Homo sapiens: one gene and its partners. Changing the gene in region 4 together with the main gene of any one other region gives a genetic interaction. Each region holds a gene or a part of one and is shown on either strand. Other genes may lie near its edges.

Region 1 (4,332 bases), on a different chromosome or scaffold from region 4:
TGGATCTCACAGATAGAATTCTACCTAGGCTTCAAGCTAGAGAAAAATGTAAGCCACAGCTGTTGAACTTCCCACCTTATACCAGAAATCAGATAGTCACTATTTTGCAAGATCGACTTAATCAGGTCAGTGCCAACTATTTTGCCAAATTATGTGTTCCTTGGATCACCTGTGCTAGGAAAATTTAACAATAGTTCTAAAATATTTTTGCCTTGATTGCTTTATTAATGGAGCAAGGAGTTCCTATGGACCATAGTGAGAACATTTTTATGTGAATTTCAGCTTCATTCATTTACTGGGTGTCTCAGTGTTGAAATAAAAGCAGGAGTTAGAGGAATCACCCAAGCGCTTTTTTTTTTTTTTTTAGATGAGTTTTGCTCTTATCGCCCAGGCTGGAGTGCAATGGCGTGATCTCGGCTCTCTACAGCCTCTGCCTCACGGGTTCAAGCGATTCTCCTGCCTCAGCCTCCCCAGTAGCTAGGACTACAGGCACCTGCCACCACGCCCAGCTAATTGTTGTATTTTTAGTAGAGCTGGGGTTTCACCGTCTTGGCCAGGCTGGTCTCGAACTCCTAACCTCAGGTGATATGCCTGTCTCGGCCTCTCAAAGTGCTGGGATTACAGGCATGAGCCATCGCACCCAGCCTCAAGTGCTTTCTTTAATGACCTTTAAAAAATAGGGCCTATGAAAAAACTTTTTCTGTTGAAAATGACTAAATAGATTTTTTATTTTTGCTAATTTCAGTTCTGATTGCTTTTTTCCATTTATGAACTTCTACTGCATCCGTACAAAAAGCTTAAATGTGTGAAAACTCTCAAACGTCTCCATTATTTATGAGAAGAAAAGGCATCTTTTTAACCCTAAAGAGTTGCCAATCAAGTTTAGGGTTAAATGTGAAAATATTTATGCTTGGGACCTAAATTACAGAGGGAGAATCTTATGGTTCAAACTGTCATCTTCTATGTCTTGTCTGAAGGTATCTAGAGATCAGGTTCTGGACAATGCTGCAGTTCAATTCTGTGCCCGCAAAGTCTCTGCTGTTTCAGGAGATGTTCGCAAAGCACTGGATGTTTGCAGGTGAGTTACGGCTCTGTTGCATTCTTTTATTAAAAAAAAAAAAAAAGAAATGCTGTTAATTGTCTCATGTAACTCAAGTGAATGTGGCTTAAGAGGCTCTGTTCTGCTACTTTTTTACGCTCAGAAAGGAGGACTTGTTTCTCAGTGGGGAGCTCTGGATTTCCACCGTGTTAATGTCTGAAACATTATCAGTCCATTACCTACAGAGGGAGAAACAAATGAGATGTTGCTGGCACTCCCTGTGGTGATTATAGATTGGTTAATTACATTTGTATTAAAAAAGACTCCAGTTTACTTTTCCATTAGCTGGTCTCAAGCAGGTTTATTTATGGACCTGAACCGTCTTTGCCTTTAGACTTGTTCCCCTTCCTTTCCTTTTGTGAGCACCCCTTCTTCCCTTCAGTTGGTGGTCCCCCACAGTTGTACTCCAGACCTCTTTCTCCCTTCCCATCCTCCTGCCCCTCCTGCTGGGGAAAGCCTCTGTGCCGACTGATGAAATTTCTTCCTTCCCAGTAGGGACACTGGGTCCATTAAAATGATACTTGCTGTGCTGGCCTGCTGGTCCAACCTCCCCCTATTGCTATGCAGAAGACCCAGGTCTGGCTTATGGCTTCCTGTGGGCAAGTACTTTGGAGAGAGCAGTGGGAGAGTAAGCTCTTCCTATTGCTAGATTGCATGATCCTGAATTTGAAAGTTTCCCCTAATCAGCAAACTACTTGGGTAAAGACTGCAACTATGAGCAATAGTCATGTAGGCTAGCGTGGTTTAGCCTACACATATCCTATGTATATATAACTGAAGATATCCCTTTTAGGTTTGGTGTGTATGGGTGATGCTGACTCCCTTTAGTCAGTCACCCACACTACATATCCTCTCTCCTACCCATGACATTTTCTCCTCATCCAAAATGTTATCATTGGCTTAATGTATGATGACCTACTTGGCATCCATTAGGAGGAAACCATTGAAGTTTCTCAAATCTGATGTCCATGAATTATTTCAAAGCAATTAAGTCCCCTTATCTGAGAAATAACCCAGTTTTGTTTGGGGGCTTTAAAATTATAAAACATCATAATTTTAAAGTTACACGTAGGATATGTGTAGGCTAAACCATGTTAGCCTACATGACCATTGTTCATAGTTGCAGTCTTTGAGCAATGGTCATTAATGTGCCGCTTTTGAGGCTGGTGGTTTGGTGTGTTTGGTTTGGCTCAGACTAAATTAATTTTAGAAATTTTTTTTATAGGAGAGCTATTGAAATTGTAGAGTCAGATGTCAAAAGCCAGACTATTCTCAAACCACTGTCTGAATGTAAGTAGTTTATCTCCTTCCTGTCTTCCTTTGTAACTAGAAGCTTAGCTTTTCTGAGGAAAGAGGTAGAAAGATGAAATGAACATAGTTAAATCCAAACTCACCCATTTTTATGTGTGTCTGTGTTTTTAGTCCGTTTCGTCTACTTTATTTCAATCTTGCCTGCCAGTACTATAGTTCGTGCATTACTGGAAATGAGTTCCCAGGGTATTGATTGCGTAAATGGCTGGGACAGAGTAAGTTTTTTTTCCAAGCTCTGGAAATGAAACTTGTAGACAATGAGGTTGGATCAGCTCTCTGGGTGCTTATGTTGCGTGCACTTTAGGTCTCAATATAGGTGAAAGCAAAGCCTGATAAATAAGGGAGAATTGGGTAAAAGAATTGTGAAGCCAGGTGCGGTGGTTCACACCTGTAATCCCAGCACTTTGGGAGGCCAAGGCGGGAGGATCGCTTGAGCCCAGGATTGTGAGACCAGCCTGGGCAATATAGTGAGACCTTGTTTCTACAAAAAATTTTAAAAATTTTGCAGCCATTAAAAATATGAGTTCATATCCTTTTTAGGGACATGGATTAAGCTGGAAACCATCATTCTCAGCAAAGTAACACAGGAACAGAAAACCAAACACCACATGTTCTCACTCATAAGTGGGAGTTGAACAATGAGAACACATGGACACAGGGAGGGGAACATCACACACCGGAGGCTGTTGGGGGTGGAGGCCAAAGGGAGGGAGAGCATGCAGGACTTAAAACCTAGATGACAGGTTGATGAGTGCAGCAAGCCACCATGGCACATGTATACCTATGTAACAAACCTGCATGTTCTGCACATGTATCCCAGAACTTAAAAAAAATTAGGCAAGCATGGTGTGTGCCTGTAGTCCTAGCTACTTGGCAGGCTGAGGCAGGAGAATCACTTGAGCTGGAGAGGCAGAAGTTGCAGTGAGCCGAGATGGTGCCACTGCACTGCCAGCCTGGGCAACAGAGCGAGACCCTGTCCCAAAAGAATAATAATAAGAAGAATTATAAGTTCAACTTGGGATATCTCAAGCTTTTAAACAAGTCTAGAGGGTAGAGGTAAAAAGATCATACTGCTACAGTAAGCTGCATGGTATCACAAATGACAAAATTAATATTCCATTCCCTCAGCCTTGTTTTGGTTGTGGCAAATGTAAAATGGCCATGAACTACGTATCTTACAGTATTTGATATCCAGTGTTAGTCTTTATAAACAGAATAGTAAGATTTGATTGTTTCTTTTTCACTCCTACACTGGCTGGGAGTTTAAGTAAAATTGTTTCTGGCATTATAGTTCTGCATGAAATTCTTTCTTTTTTTCATCAATTTGCTAAAATAAAATAATTAAAAATGTTTCAGAAGTAGCCAAAAATAGTGCTTAGGCTAATAGTAGGCAATATATACCAATGTATAGACTTAGATACTGGTTTCTTCCTCCTTTTCAACTTTTCAGATTATCCCCTTTTCCTCCTCCTTTTTCCCCATCAGTAACATTTAGGCTTGTCACTGGCCCCTGTGAGCACCACTAACACAAACATAATTCAAAAAGGTAAAGAGGTTGTAAGTTCTATCTTTTGACTTCTGGTTTGTGCGGGATTGGCTTTTTTCTTTCTTTTTTTTTTTTCTTTTTGTGTAAAACAAGGTCTTGCTTTGTCTCCCAGGCTGGAGTCCAGTGGTGCAATTATGGCTGGTGCGATCATGGCTCACTGCAGCTGCAACCTCCCAGGCCCAAGCAGTCCTCTCACCTCAGCCTCCCCAGCTCCAGCTACTGCTAATTTTAAAATTTTTGTAGAGTCAGTGGGTGGAGGAGTCTCCTTATGTTGCCCAGGCTGGTCTCAAACTCCTGGGATAAAGTGATTCTCCTGCCTCAGCCTCCCACAGCTTTGGAATTACAGGCATGAGCCACCATACCAGGTTGAGATTGG
Region 2 (4,332 bases), on a different chromosome or scaffold from region 4:
TTTTAAAAATAATACTGTGCTGGCCAAGCAAAACATGGACAGCTGGCTACATTCACTCTGTGGACCCCCTGGTGGTCAGACTCCAGTTTAAAGTGGTGATCAGCCCTGCACGGTTGCATGCGCCTGTAATCCCAGCAACTCCGGAGGCTGAGGCGGGAGGATTGCTTGAGGCCAGGAGTTCAAGACCTCATGTCAAATTTAAAAAAAGAAAAACAATTAAGTAGAAACTAAAAAGTGATGATCAATTTAAACAGAACTGTATGATCACCAAAAGACTCTGTCGAGTTTCATCCCTTATATCCTACAAAACTCCTGAGTTGTGCAGTTGAGAAGAGACTGGGGATCAGATCATGGGGCTTAGCTCCAGCCAAGAACAGGATCTCAGGACACCATGCCAAGGCAGGGGCAGCCAAGGCTGAAAACTGGGGGCGAAAAATCGGAGTTCTCCCTCACCGATCTCCATTTTAGGGAAACTCAATGGATATTACTTTGATGAGTACACAGTGCCACATAAGTGAGGTCATTATTTTAAGAGGATACTGTCTTCCCAAAAATTTAGAATTTTTATCCAGAAGATAGCTTATTCTATGTGAATACACTGTGAATGAGGAAAGAGAGGTCCGGAAAGTTTAAAGGAATTGCCACGATTACCCAAACTGAACCTAAAATCAAAGAGTGTGTCTTTTTCTCTGTGCAATTGCAAAGCACCAAAAGACAGGTGAAGAGATTTCATTCAAGGTGTCAAACATGTGTGATTAAACACTCTACCAAACAGAAGTTACATGTAAATTGAATCTACATTTACTCAGCATTATCCTCCTTCCTCATTAGAAAAGTCACCCACATGTTTGCCCCACATCACTGTTGTAAAATCTCTTTATCCCCTAACAGAAGCATTAAAAGCAGGTTAAGTATTTCCACCCCTCCTTCCGGATCAGGCTGTAGAGAAGAAAGGCAAATCAGCAAATGGGGCCAGGCACGGTGGCTCATGCCTGTAATCCTAGCACTTTGGGAAGCCGAGGCAGGCGGATCATGAGGTCAGGAGTTCAGGCGGATCACAAGGTCAGGAGTTTGAGACCAGCCTGACCAATATGTTGAAACCCTGTCTCTACTAAAAATAGAAAAATTAGCTGGGCATGGTGGCGGGTACCTGTAATCCCAGCTACTTGGGAGGCTGAGGCAGGAGAATTGTTTGAACACAGGAGGCGGAGGTTGCAGTGAGCCAAGATTGCACCACTGTACTCCAGCCTGGGCAACAGTGCAAGACTACGTCTCAAAAAAAAAAAAAAAAGAAAGAAAAGAAAAGAAAAGAAAGGCAAATCAGCAAATGGAAACACAAGAAGGAAGCCCCAATGTGAATGTCCCCGAGTGTACGCATGATTTCTGTTGGAGGAATTCCTGGCCTGAAGAGACAGCATAAACAAAGGCCATCCAGAGGGAAACAAATGATAAGATAAGTGAAACCCAGCAACTCTCTCTGTCCTCCCCTCTACCTACTTCCCTCAACTTGTTCGTCAGAAAAACAATCTGAGCTTGACAGAATTACAATGTAAGCCTTCCTCTCCCAGCTGCCTCACAGCTCTCATTCTAAGCTAGAGGGTTAAGGGGGGAAGACATGCTTTTCTGTAAGGTCAGTGATGGGGCTCCCAAGATATGGAACTTGGCAGACTGGAGACAGCCATCTCACCCTGCCCACAGAGAAGCCAAAGGAGCAGAACTGTCAAACTGCAATGCAGGGAGTATAGAAAGAAAAGGTAAGGTATGGAAGAAACGTAACTTCAGACACAGCCTGAAAAGAAATTGGGTTAAATATAAAACTATATACATTTTTAAAAACATTTTAACCAGCCCTTAGCAGAAAATATCATAGGCAAGGCAGTTTCCTGCCACAGTTCCTAGAACTTCCATAGTTGGAAGTGTTACCTACTCACAGAATCTCAAGCCCTAAATGGGTCAGAGTATTTCCAGTTTAATCTCTATTCTTGATTTTTAAAAGACGAAAATATAATAGCAGGCCTGTTCATTTAACCTTCTGAGAACATGGTGCGGTCAGTCTCAGCCATTGGCTTCAATTCCAGCATTTATTTATTGCATGTCCTCCAACTTTTAGTTCACATTACCAACAGTGCTGAACAAAGTACCTCTAACGCAGAAATGACTGCCACACAAACAGGATGGGGAAACCAAACAGAAATGGTATTGTTGTTTCTTTTCCACCATCAGCCTAAATCAAATAGCAGCCACTAATAATGAGTTAACTGTAGTTGCATTTGAAAAAATAATTCCCGCGGTGGCTCACGCCTGTAATCCCAGCACTTTGGGAGGCTGAGTCGGGCGGATCACGAGGTCAGGAGATCGAGACCATCCAGGCTAACACGGTGAAACCCCGTCTCTACTAAAAATACAAAAAACTAGCCAGGCGTGGTGGCAGGCGCCTGTAGTCCCAGCTACCCGGGAGGCCGAGGCAGGAGAATGGCGGGAACCTGGAAGGCGGAGCTTGCAGTGAGCCGAGATCGCGCCACTGCACTCCAGCCTGGGCGACAGAGCGAGACTCCGTCTCAAAAAAGAAAAAAGAATTCCAAATGGGTTGCCTTGAACAGAAATGTATGACATTTTCCATATTCACAATTTCACCAACTTTCAAGAATAGAGAATGCAGCAAGTTTCTTCAGTTTAAGCTGTTTCATTTCCTTTAATTTCTTACAATTAGTTTTTTTGTGGGTTTTGTTTTTTTGTTTTGTTTTGTTTTGTTTTTTGAGACAGAATCTCGCTCTGTCACCCAGGCTGGAGTGCAGTGGCAGGATCTCAGCTCACTGCAAGCTCCGCCTCCCGGGTTCACGCCATTCTCCTGCCTCAGCCTCCGGAGTAGCTGGGACTACAGGCGCCCGCCACCACGCCCGGCTAATTTTTTGTAATTTTAGTAGAGATGGGGTTTCACCGTGTTAGCCAGAATGGTCTCGACTTCCTGACCTTGTGATATGCCCGCCTCGTCCTCCCAAAGTGCTGGGATTACAGGCGTGAGCCACCGCACCCGGCCCATTTCTTACAATTAATTTTGTAGTACATTCTGGGGATTTAGAAGGGTCCCTGGTCTAAACCTCTTGTTACAGAACTGCGGGTTCTAACTTGTGTCTAAACATTTCCCTGCTTGGTTTTACCAAATCTCTATGAAACTAATACAAATTTAAGCTTAGGCACATATGAACAATCTATCTCATCTGGTGAATAATGTTGACCACCATCCTTTACTCTTCTTCTTGGGCACAAATATCCAGAACTTTATCTAAGAGTAAGTCCAGAAGTAGCACCCAAACACACATTGATGGCATCTGTCATTCTGCCAAGAAAGGAAAAAGATCAAGGCTATTGGCTTTGGCAAACTTTCAAGAAGCTGCCCCTAGTCCTGACCTAATCTTCACAGGAGGACAACTGTCAGAAGCATACGGTTCCTTAGCAAGCTGCTGGCAGTCTTGCCTCTCACTTACAGGGTTTTCCTACCAGTTCGCTTTAAAATATGGCACCTTTTTTTGCCCTTAGTAGTGATAGCTGTGCACTGATATGTCCACAATGTACAGTCTAGTCCCCAAAAGCATGATTAATTTAAAAAAAAAAAAGATACAGAAAAAATCTGACTAGAATTACAGGTACAGTTTGTGGCTCCAAAACAAGGCAAAGCTAACCCATGCCCTTGACCTGGTTTGTATGTCACTAACAAACTGAGCTAGCCAACAAGCCAGAATATAAGAACCTATCTCAGAAAATAAAAGATGGGCATCTGTATTACCCCAACAATGCCCAAAGCTAGGATCTGGGCTATCTACTCTTGTAAGCCTAAATTCAGGAAGTCTATCAGATAGGCAACATTTTCCAATCACACTGCAGGTATTTTTTTTAGACATAAAAATGACAAAGACCAGTTTAATAGGTGACCTTAATTGTGTGCCAGCAGAAATACAGGTAGCCTTAAAACCCCAATCCTGGTGTAATTTATAGAACAGAATAAACCCAGGTTATTACTAAAGGTGAATGACATACTTAAAAAGTATAACAAGATGAGGCCAGGCGCGGTGGCTCACGCCTGTAATCCCAGCTCTTTGGGAGGCCGAGGCAGGCGGATCACGAGATCAGGAGATTGAGACCATCCTGGCTAACACGGTGAAACCCCATCTCTACTAAAAATACAAAAAATTAGCTGGGCGTGGTGGTGGACACCTGTAGTCCCAGCTACTCAGGAGGCTGAGGCAGGAGAATGGCGTGAACCTGGGAGGCGGAGCTTGCAGTGAGCTGAGATCGCACCACTGCACTCCAGCCTGGGCGACAGAGCAAGATTGT
Region 3 (4,918 bases), on a different chromosome or scaffold from region 4:
GGGGTCTGTGTGCCCAGAGTGTCGATGAAACAGCTCCCCACCCGCTCCCCTGCCCCTTTCACAGCACACCCTTTCTGCACCAGTCTCCTGTCTTTGGCCTGGCTGTGCCCTCCCTGGGAAGCCTGCACAGCTGAGCTCCAGCCCCATCCTGAACACCAGTGCAGGACACCCACGTGGGCCACTGGTAACTCCTTTTATCTTGTTGTTGTTATTTATTTTTCACTTTTACCACTGGTAATTCCTGACCCACTGCCTCAGGAAGATGCACATTTGTAAGAAACCCCAGTTCCCAGCCTGTAACGCGAACCTCCCTCCCTGCCTGCCTCTGCCCATCCAGGTGGGGACTGAGCCCTCTGGGCAGCTGGTTTGGTCACGGCCTAGCTGTCTGGCCTTGGGCAAGTCACAGTACTCTCCAAGACTCAGTACTCTCCAAGCTTCAGTCTCTCATCTGGGCCCTTGGGACAGTAAGCCCACCTAAGGACAGAGTTGGCGATTTGGCTGGGGCTTCTCTCTCCCACCAATAATACCACGCCCTTGCTGCACCTGACCTTGTCTAGCCAGTCCCTCGCTACAACCAGGGTCCAGAGACGGGACACTGCATCGCAAATCCCCACAGCCTTCCCATTTTACAAACGAGGAAAGGAGGTTACATGCACTGTCCAGCATCTGCTTCCCTCATACCCCACGTCCAGTCCATTTCTGAGCCCCATCAACTCAGTTTCAAAACACACAGAAGTCACCTCCCTCCCTGCTCCAGGCCCCACCGTCACGTGCCTGGATTGGTACTCACTACAGTCTGTTCCCACAGAGGCCAGAGGGATCCTATGAAAGCCACAGCCAGATCCTTGTCCCTCCCCTGCTCAGGATCCTCCTGGGGCTCCCAGCTAAGGGAGGCTTGTGCCTCAGGGCCTTTGCACCTACTGCCCCTCTGCCTGGAACGCACTTCCTCCAGCACTTCCTGTCGCTCAGGAGTAATCTCCTCAGAGAAGCCTCCCAAGGCCACCCTGGCTGCAGCAGCCGCCCTGGCCACACCTCTCACCCCCTCGCCCTACTTTATTTGATCCACAGCACTGGCTACCATCCCAACTACAGTCTATTTTACTTTTTTGTTTTGGCTTTTCACTGTCTCCTGCACAACTATATCAGCCACCTGAGTTAACAGGTATTTGTCCTTTTTGGTAACTACTGTTGTCCCCAGCACCTTGGAGACCTCACACACAGTGGGGCTCAGTATTAACAGAGAAGGCACATTCCACAGGCGATGTGTGGGCTGGACTGGGATTTGAACCCAAGACTCAGAGTCCAAAGTCCCTGCTCACTCCTGACCTGTCTCCCACCCCCTAAGCTCAGGAATCAGGGGCCTATTCCCTAGCGATCACCTATTACCCACTTAGGTGACTAAGTCCCTTCCCCAAGACCACCCCACTTTCCACCACTGCTGCCCACGCTTCATCCTCAGCGGAGGGCCCTTACTTTCCGCCACCCCAAGGCTAGCCAGAGTGGGCTGAGCTTCACCCCCATCTGTCTCCAGCCCCCACTGCACACCCCAATTCACTGGCTGAAGAAATGACATTTAGGCCAGGCATGGCAGCTCATGTCTGTAATCCTAGCACTTTGGGAAGCCAACATGGATGGATAGATAGCTTGAACCCAGGAGTTCGAGACCAGCCTGGGCAACATGGTGAAACCCCATCTCTACAAAAAATACAAAAACTAGCCGGGCATGGTGACACGAGCCTGTAGTCCCAGCTTCAGGAGGCTGAGATGGGAGGATCACCTGAGCCAGGGAGTTGTGAGGCTGCAGTGGACTGTGATTGTGCCACTGCACTCCAGCCTGGGTGAGAGTGAGACCCCATTTCAAAAAAAAAAAAGTGACATTTAGCCCTGTGCCTGTTGCTGCCTTTCCCTGAAGGGCCATTCTCCTCTCACCTCACCCTCACAGCCTCCCCGGCACAGAAAATAGGTGCCATCTGGGGACCACGGAGCACCAGCTTCCCTTCTGGGCCCCTCTCAGGTTCCTAGCAGGTTCTCAGCCACCGTGTGAGGGTCCTGGCAGCTCTCATCGGCAATCACTGCAGACCTAGGCAGGGAAACCCTGAGACATCCCAGTGCCTCCACTACTCCAGGTCCAGCCGTCCCAGAGCCTCCTCCAAGACAAGTGTCTCCTCAAGGCAGCCCAGGGCGCCTGGCACAACACTGGCCCAGGACCACAGCAGCCCCTTGGAAAAATCCCTGCCCCTCAAGGCTAAAATCCAACCCCACTGACACAAGAACTCAAGAAAGATATTGGTGCAGCTCACTCTGACTCCGGGCAAGCCGTCACCCCTCTCAGAACCTCAATTTTCTCACCTGTATTTTGAAGATAACTCTAATTTCGAAGAGCACTGAGAGGCTCTGCCATCAGTGGGCTCTGGGGTAAGAATGAGGACAAAACCAACGTCCCCAGAGCAGTGAGCCAGGAGTGGGCTGAGGCCCTGCTCTAACATCAGTGCAGAGGGAGGCGGGGGCTGAGGCGGCCCCTTTCCCTGGCCCCTAGTGTCCCACTCCGGGAAAGGAAGGAAAAGCCTCCACCTCACTCCACCTTGGTGCAGAAAGGCAGGACAGCTGGCCCATGTGGCAGAGGGAGCCAGGGCCCACAGTATGGAGAAAAGTAGCCTCATTTCACAGCTAGGGAAACTGAGGCCCCACGATGCGAAGTGCAGTGTAGTACACAGCCAGGCATGTCCCCTGGACTCGGAGCCCCGGGCAGGGCAGAGCAGGGCAAGGCAGAGCCTGGAGCAGTGGGGGAAGGAAGGAGAGGCTCCTTGAAGGGATTTCCCAGCCGCACCCCCCACAGCTGCCTCGCCCCCACTAACTCTCTCACCCTCCTGGGTGCCAAAGCACAAAACAAACCGGGCCCCAGGGCTGTCCCAAGGGCCGAGCAGGGACGCAATGGAGCCCCTAAGAAAAAGGATAAAGAGACAGAAGTGAGCGACAGAGGTCGAGAGACTCCACAGAGACAGAGAGAGAGACACGCAGGGAGAGACAGGCAAAGAAGACTCAGAGACGCACAGGCAGCAAGAGAAATGAGAGGCAGAGAGATAAAGGGAGACAGGCAGAGATAGGAAGGGGCAGAGGCAGAGACACCCCCACCACACACACAGGCACAACTGGGGCGAGACAGCCGGTCAGCGGCGGAGAAAGAGGGACAGAGACCCAGAGACAGGCAAAGAGTCTCAGAGACAGACCCCCACACACACAGACTGGCAGAGCCAGGGCCAGAGCGGCCCGCAGAGACTCGGGGAGCAGACACGGAAAGTCGGCCGGAGACCCAGACCCACCCAGAGTCCGAGCCAGAGCGGGGCCCGCCGAGGGGGTGCGCGGCCCGGCCCGGCCCCGCCCCGCGCCGCGCTGCATGCCAGCCCCCGCCCCCCGGGCCCGACGTGGCTCCGACCCCGGGCCCCCAGCCCAGGCCCCCGTCCCGCCCCCTCCCGCCCGAGCCCGGGCCCGGGCCGCCGCCGCACCTTGTTGAAGGCGAAAAGCTCCTGCTTGAGCTTCTCGCGCTGCGGGTCGGCGCCCTGCCGCCGGAACCGAAACTTCATCATCTTGCGCCCGGCTGCAGGCGCCTCGCCCGCCGCCGCCGCCCGCAGGATGCGCCGCGCGGCCCCGCGGGTCCTAAGGCGCGGGCGGGGCGCCAGGCGGCCCGGGCGCGGGCGCGCGGGGCCGGGCCTGCACGGGGGTGGGCGCCGGGCGCGACGGACGCGCCGCCCGACCAGTGAGCGAGCCCGCCGTGCCGCCCGCCCCGCCCCTGTTGGCCAGACAATGGTGAACTGGGCCCCCGGGCTCGGCCGGGCTCGCGAAGGGACGCCCGCCTAGCATGCGCCGCGGCGCGGGGCCTGCCGGGACTTGTAGTCCATGAGCCGGGGCTCCAGCGCGGGCGGCTGGGGAAGCGCTTTGGAGGGGGATTGGCGCACGTTCCCGGGCTTGGAGGAGACTTTTTCCTCCTCCCAGAGAGCGAGCGACGTGCCCACTCATGTAATGGGGCAGCCCTGTTCCGAAAGCCAAGACAGCTCTGACTGGAACAACTCCCTGGCCCCTCTGCGCCTCAGTTTCCCCATCTACACCATTGGTCAAGTGATTGCCAAGTTTATATTTTACCAATTTCACAGAACTCCATTTCGTCTGTTCCCCGCTCTGTCAGAGCACCTCCCACCGCCGTGCTTTTGCCTTGGCTTTGTAGTCAGGAATTCTTTCCTCACCCCCAGCCCCTGGGGAACTCCTACACATCTTTCAGGACCCAACGCAAAAGGCTCTGTGTCACAGCACAGGGGATTCTTTCTTAGCCAAAGAAAGAGACGGGATCCCCAGGAGGTGGCATTTGGGACTGTTCTGGGGTTGGATTGGAGCTTTACGGAGATGGGGGAAGGACCTCCCCCCGCAGAGAACAGCGTCTGAACAAAGCTTAGCCCTGCCCCTACTCTCAGGGGCCGTCTGCCTGTCCCCACCCACCTCCCAGGCCTTTTCTCATCTGGACAATGGCCTCGAGGCTGAACCTTTCCTTCCAGGCTGAGGATAGGCCGCCTGGCTCAGGGCTGGGGCTGCGGGAGGTCCTAGAAGCTTAGGTGGGGCAGGTAGGACAGGCCCCAACCCCACCAGCTGTGTCCAGGGAGCAGGAGCTGACCTCTGAGCCCGAGGCGGCTGCCAAGCCTTGGGGCCTGGCTGTCCCCCTCCACCCACGCCAGGCCGGCGGTGTTCAGCCCTTCCCCGTATTTGGGGCTGGATCCGGAAGAGGGCCCAGGAGTGAGTGAGGAGGTGAGAGGAGGGAGAATGACGACAGTAAAGCCCCTAAGTGTCTACTGCGGGGCAGGCGCTGTTCAAAGCCCTTTCCTGGTTTCAGCTGACTTAGTGCTGTCAGTAGCTCTACGAGGGAGCCAACAAT
Region 4 (5,174 bases):
TTCTGCATGAAATTCTCTTCTCTTCAGAAGTTCTGGAGCAACATATGGTAAAGTACCACACATCTTGTTCAACAAACGCTCACGATTATTATACCGAAATACTGTTGCCAAGCCAAAGTCTGAGATTTTGAGGTTATCTAAACCAAAAGAAAAAAAGATGACACTGAATAAAAATGTTTTGCAAATAGATATACTTACAGGAATTAAGTTTTACTGAAAAAAAATCACTGGTGTTACTTAAGGTTTGTAGAACTTCTCTTAAAATAAGCAAAATAGACAAAAAGAAATTTAAAAAAATAAAATAAATCATCATCTATGCTAAAAGTAGAAAAAGGCCTCACCTCTTCTATTAACTTAAAAGAAGTATTATCAACACACAGAACAGTCTGGACCAGATTAAAGAAAGAGGCTGGAGTCAGAAGGGGCTGCCCTTCTGGAAAAGAGCACTCTAAACCTGAGATGAAAGTAAAGCAAGGCCCCTCATCAGGTAGGGTGGAGGGCAGGAAGGAAACATCAGTAGTATGTTAGGCACAACTTTCTCAGCAGCAAACAAACCCAGTTGGCAGAAGAAAATATGTGAAGACACACCAAAATTCAACAAACCACAGTAATTTTTTTCTTCAAAGTAGAGAGTCTGAGAAAAAGAGGACAAACTCTGTACAAAAAAAAAATATCAGAAGACCCAACTTCCACCCTAACTTCCCATCTTCAACACACAAAAACTGCAGGCAGGACTTAACTTATGTTTAGTGAATATCTACTGTAACTTAGTGACAGACACTATGCCAGCCAATGCAGGTAATAGATAAATTAGTGAAGACTGACAATAGAAAACTGTTATGAAGGTTATAAAAATATAGAGCACTATAGGATCTTAGAGCAAAGGAATGTAACCCAGTCTTAAGAGTTAGAAAAGGCCCTCTATTATCAGAGGGCAATTTGGCAAAACATACTAAACTGTGAAACATTCACTCTTTGAACTAGCAATTCCCACTTCTATATCCATAGAAATAATCCCACAAATTCATAAACATAAGAATATTCATAGCAATATTATTTGTAAATAAATGTCCAAATTTGTACAATGGAAAATGTGGAGGTAGGTTTTGAAAACAATCAACAAGGTATATCTATACATACTAACATGAAATAGTGTGTAAGTGGGACAAAAAGGCTAATGGCATAAAAAATATTATAGCATAAAAAATATTATAGCATGACGCAATTTTTATATTGGCCTTTTACACAAATTGATAGAAGCCATCACTGTCCTATTTTATAAGTTAGAAACAACTTAAATGTCTCAAAATAGGGGACTGATTTCTTTAAAAATCAAGTACATTCACACAATATGTAAACCAATGAAATGTTTACCTCTATCTGACTTAGGAGGTAGCTACTGTGATTACCCTTTTTTTTTTTTTTTTTTTTTTTTTTTGAGAAAGTGTCTCACTCTGCTGCCCAGACTAGAGTGTAGTGATGTGATCACAGCTTACTGCAGCCTTGACCTCCTAGGCTGAAGTGATCAATCCTCCTGCTTCAGCCTTCCAAGTAGCTGGGACTCCAGGTGTGCACCACCATGTCTAGCTAATTTTTTTTTTTAATTTTTCATAAAGACAGGGTCTATGTTGTCTAGGCTGGTCTCAAACTCCTAGAATCACTCAATCGTCCCACCTCAGCCTCTGGGATTACAGGCATGAGCTACTGCACCCAGTTGATTATCTTTTCAGTAGTTAAATATGACACTATTGGACAAACCACTGAGATTGAGTTTCAAATTACTTATGAGTAGTAATCACTTAAAATACTAATGGATAACTATAGTATTCCTTGGACTTTGTTATGTCTGCAACATAATACTCAGCTATGTTAGAGAACTGCACATAATAAAATTTAAATGTAGGAATGTGTTTAGCTCTTAGAAAAACAAAGGAAGAATATATTTGTGATGAAATAAACAGGAGGACATTAAATACTGGTAACATTTTATTTCTTTTTTTAAAAGACTCCTAAATATTAAATAGAAACAAAGAATTATATCTTGTATATTAATACAAGATATAAAGAATAACAATGTAATAAACACCCACTCACTTTAGAAAAACAATGCTCTATTTCCTTTGAAATCTTTAAATACTTCCTTAAATACATTCCCTCCCCTACTTTCTTAGACCATTCTGAATTTGGTTTTATTATACCCTTGCTTTTCTGCATGTTTTTTTCTCCATGTTTACATACTTGAACAATATACTAGGTTTTACATATTTTTGAACTTTGTATAAACAGAATCAGACCATATGAATTCTTTTGCAACTGTCTCTTTTTGCTCTACATCATTATATACCTGAAATTCATCCATGTCACTGCTTGTGACATGCTTGTGTCACTGCTTGTGACATGGCTTGAAAAGCCATGCATTTCATAATTTATTGTTGACAGACATTTGGGTTAGTTTCCTGCTATATTAAAAACATCACCACTGTGAGCATTCTTATATACGAATAATGTTGTATTTTTAAACCAGGTGGGTTGATATACATATATTTACATTTCATTATAATACATAAGAATTTTTGTGTACCTGAATTTTTAAAGTTTTAAATAAAAATAAAGATTTTTATGTCATATAAACTCAGTTTAAAGGGGTAAAAAGTAAAATCCATATGCACATAAGAAAAAAGCATGTATAGGCTGGGTACAGCGGCTCACACCTATAATCCCAGCACTCTGGGAGGCCAAGGGAGGCAGATCACTTGAGGCCAGGAGCTCGAGACCAGCCTGGCCAATATGACAAAACCCCATCTCTACTAAAAATATAAAAATGAGCCAGGTGTGGTGACTCAGGCTTGTAATCCCAGCTACTCAGGGGCCTAAGGCACAAGAATCACCTGAACCAGAGAGGTAGAGGTTACAGTGAGCCGAGATCATGTCACTACACTCCAGCCTGGGCAACACAGCAAGACTCTGTTTCAAAAAAAAAAAAAAGCTGACCATTTGTTAAGCACTATTCTAATACTAAGAATAAAGCATTAAACCAGACAAAAACTACTGCCTCATACAGCTGACATTTCTTTTTTGATTCTGACCCTGTAAGCTTAAAGCTTTCGCTATCCATCCTTCTCAATTTGATGACATTCAGAAAATATAACTAAATTTCTTACATTTTTATCCACGTCATACATAAAAAAAGAGTGAACAGGACAAGACTAAGGTCCAGGGTATTCCACAGGAACTTCCCTTTATTAATCCATTAAAGGATTATTTTAAACTATTCTTGGCCAGGCATGGTGGCTCACGTCTATAATCCCAACACTCTGGGAGGCTAAGGCTGGTAAACTGCTTGAGTCCAGGAGTTCAAGACTAGCCTGAGCAACACAGGAAGACTCCACCTCTTCAAAAAATCAAAAATTAGCCAGGCATGGTGGCACCTGCCTGTGGTTGGTCCTAGCTACTCGGGAAGCTGAGATGGTAGGATTGCTTGAGCCTAGGAGGTCAAGGCTGCAGTGAACTGTGATAATACAGTGCACCCCAGACTGGACAACACAGTGAGCCTGTATCAAAAAAAAAAAAATTATTCTTATACATATAGTGAGCTAGGCTTGCACCTAGGTCAGATTTCTCTACCTGATCCGCACTTGTATTGCAAAATGAGACTTGTGATTTCCAAATATACGAAGTCTCCAAAATTTCCTTGATTTTTCAGATCTTGTCTTGAAATTCCAGTAATGCAAAAAGACTTGATTTTGCCTTGTATGGCTATATTAAAATAATTAGGTAATTAAAATAATTTAGGTAATTATTTTATTTTATTTTAGGTAGTGATAAAATGCTAAACTTACCCCTTTCATCCAACAGAAGATTTTCTGGTTTAATATCCCTGTGAGTTATTCCAATACCATGCAGATAAACCTAAGAGGGATGCAGAGAGAAACACACTAGAATTTGGTAATGTAATGTATTCACTCTAATTTTAAGTAAAAGGGAAATAGACAACTATACCTACCACCCCTGCCATGAGTTGATGGAAGAATCTCTGAGCATCTGGTTCAGGCATGCCTATGTCTGGCTCTAAAACAAATATGAAAGTAAGTTTATTGACTAAATATAATCAGGTAGCAACCACATAGCTTCTTAATTTGAAGCTTAGACATTTACAAATGTGCTTAGGCAAACAGAAGCAAATGCCAACAAAAGATTCAGGAGTCCACTAACACATATGGGGCTTAACTCACATTTACCTGTGTTAGGTGGCAAAAGGCGTCATCACAGAAAAATTATAAAGAGAAAACCAATATCCAAATCAAGAATGCAAGCCATGACTTCAAAGCCTCTGCTTCCTCTTATACTAACCCTGATTTATTTAGTAACCTTGAAATTCCCCCCATTTCTTCTAAATGCTATGCTAATTATTTTTCTCATTCCTGAAATATAATGCCAAAGGGGAAGTCTGGGCAAATCTAAGCCAATTTCACTAAATATTTTACAGATTATACTTCTTTTATAATTTAACTTTTTTTAGAGATACGGTCTTGTTCTTTCACCCAGGCTGGAGTGCCCTGGCGTGAGATCATAACTTACTGTAACCTGGAACTCTTGAGCTCAAGCAATCCTCCTGCCTCCTAAGTAGCTAGGATTGCAGGCATGTACCACCACACCTGGCTCAGATTTAAACTTCATATAGTCTCACAGTACAAAACCACAAATGCCTGTGAGGTCCTTCGTGAAACAGTTTTATTATGAAAGTTCTTTTATCAGTTATCTTTTTATATTTTGATCTCTCTCATTAACTCCATTTCTTTTACCCTCAACTCTCTCCTGAGTCACACTGGAGATCCTAATACCTCTTTATCAGTTTTTAACTGATAAACTTATTTAATACAATAGCTTTAAATTATAAATTTAAATTATAAATTTAGATCCAGATTTTATGTACTTCTCAGTGTTCTGAAATATCAATCCTTTGATTCTACATCGAATATTTAAGTATTAATAGCAAACATAGAATTTACTTAATATACAAAAAGCAATCCTAGAAAATTCTCAATTATTTCATGTAAACCAAGAGGAAACAGCATGCTATTTTAGATCTGTAAATGTATAAAATGTATACAATGATTTCATGTAACTAGAATGTCTACAAAGAAAAAATTGTGTAGGCAATACATTGCATTTAG

What was found. A genetic interaction does not mean that the proteins touch.
Region 1: changes in CHEK1 (region 4) and CDC6 are lethal when combined (synthetic lethality), as found in Homo sapiens cells (one large-scale study listed by BioGRID).
Region 2: changes in CHEK1 (region 4) and DAAM1 are lethal when combined (synthetic lethality), as found in Homo sapiens cells (one large-scale study listed by BioGRID).
Region 3: changes in CHEK1 (region 4) and LLGL1 are lethal when combined (synthetic lethality), as found in Homo sapiens cells (one large-scale study listed by BioGRID).

The regions. Positions count from the first base shown.
Region 1 is NC_000017.11:40,294,379-40,298,710, forward strand, and holds part of CDC6 (cell division control protein 6 homolog), read left to right. Parts: coding exon 1-125; intron 126-977; coding exon 978-1,078; intron 1,079-1,202; coding exon of another isoform or gene 1,203-1,322; intron 1,323-2,324; coding exon 2,325-2,389; intron 2,390-4,332. UniProt on the Homo sapiens protein: Involved in the initiation of DNA replication. Also participates in checkpoint controls that ensure DNA replication is completed before mitosis is initiated.
Region 2 is NC_000014.9:59,195,167-59,199,498, reverse strand, and holds part of DAAM1 (disheveled-associated activator of morphogenesis 1), read right to left. Parts: intron 1-4,332. UniProt on the Homo sapiens protein: Binds to disheveled (Dvl) and Rho, and mediates Wnt-induced Dvl-Rho complex formation. May play a role as a scaffolding protein to recruit Rho-GDP and Rho-GEF, thereby enhancing Rho-GTP formation. Can direct nucleation and elongation of new actin filaments.
Region 3 is NC_000017.11:18,224,349-18,229,266, reverse strand, and holds the start of LLGL1 (lethal(2) giant larvae protein homolog 1), read right to left. Parts: upstream 3,633-4,918; 5' UTR 3,585-3,632; coding exon 3,504-3,584; intron 1-3,503. UniProt on the Homo sapiens protein: Cortical cytoskeleton protein found in a complex involved in maintaining cell polarity and epithelial integrity. Involved in the regulation of mitotic spindle orientation, proliferation, differentiation and tissue organization of neuroepithelial cells.
Region 4 is NC_000011.10:125,628,126-125,633,299, reverse strand, and holds part of CHEK1 (serine/threonine-protein kinase Chk1), read right to left. Parts: intron 4,069-5,174; coding exon 4,004-4,068; intron 3,910-4,003; coding exon 3,840-3,909; intron 138-3,839; coding exon 1-137. UniProt on the Homo sapiens protein: Serine/threonine-protein kinase which is required for checkpoint-mediated cell cycle arrest and activation of DNA repair in response to the presence of DNA damage or unreplicated DNA.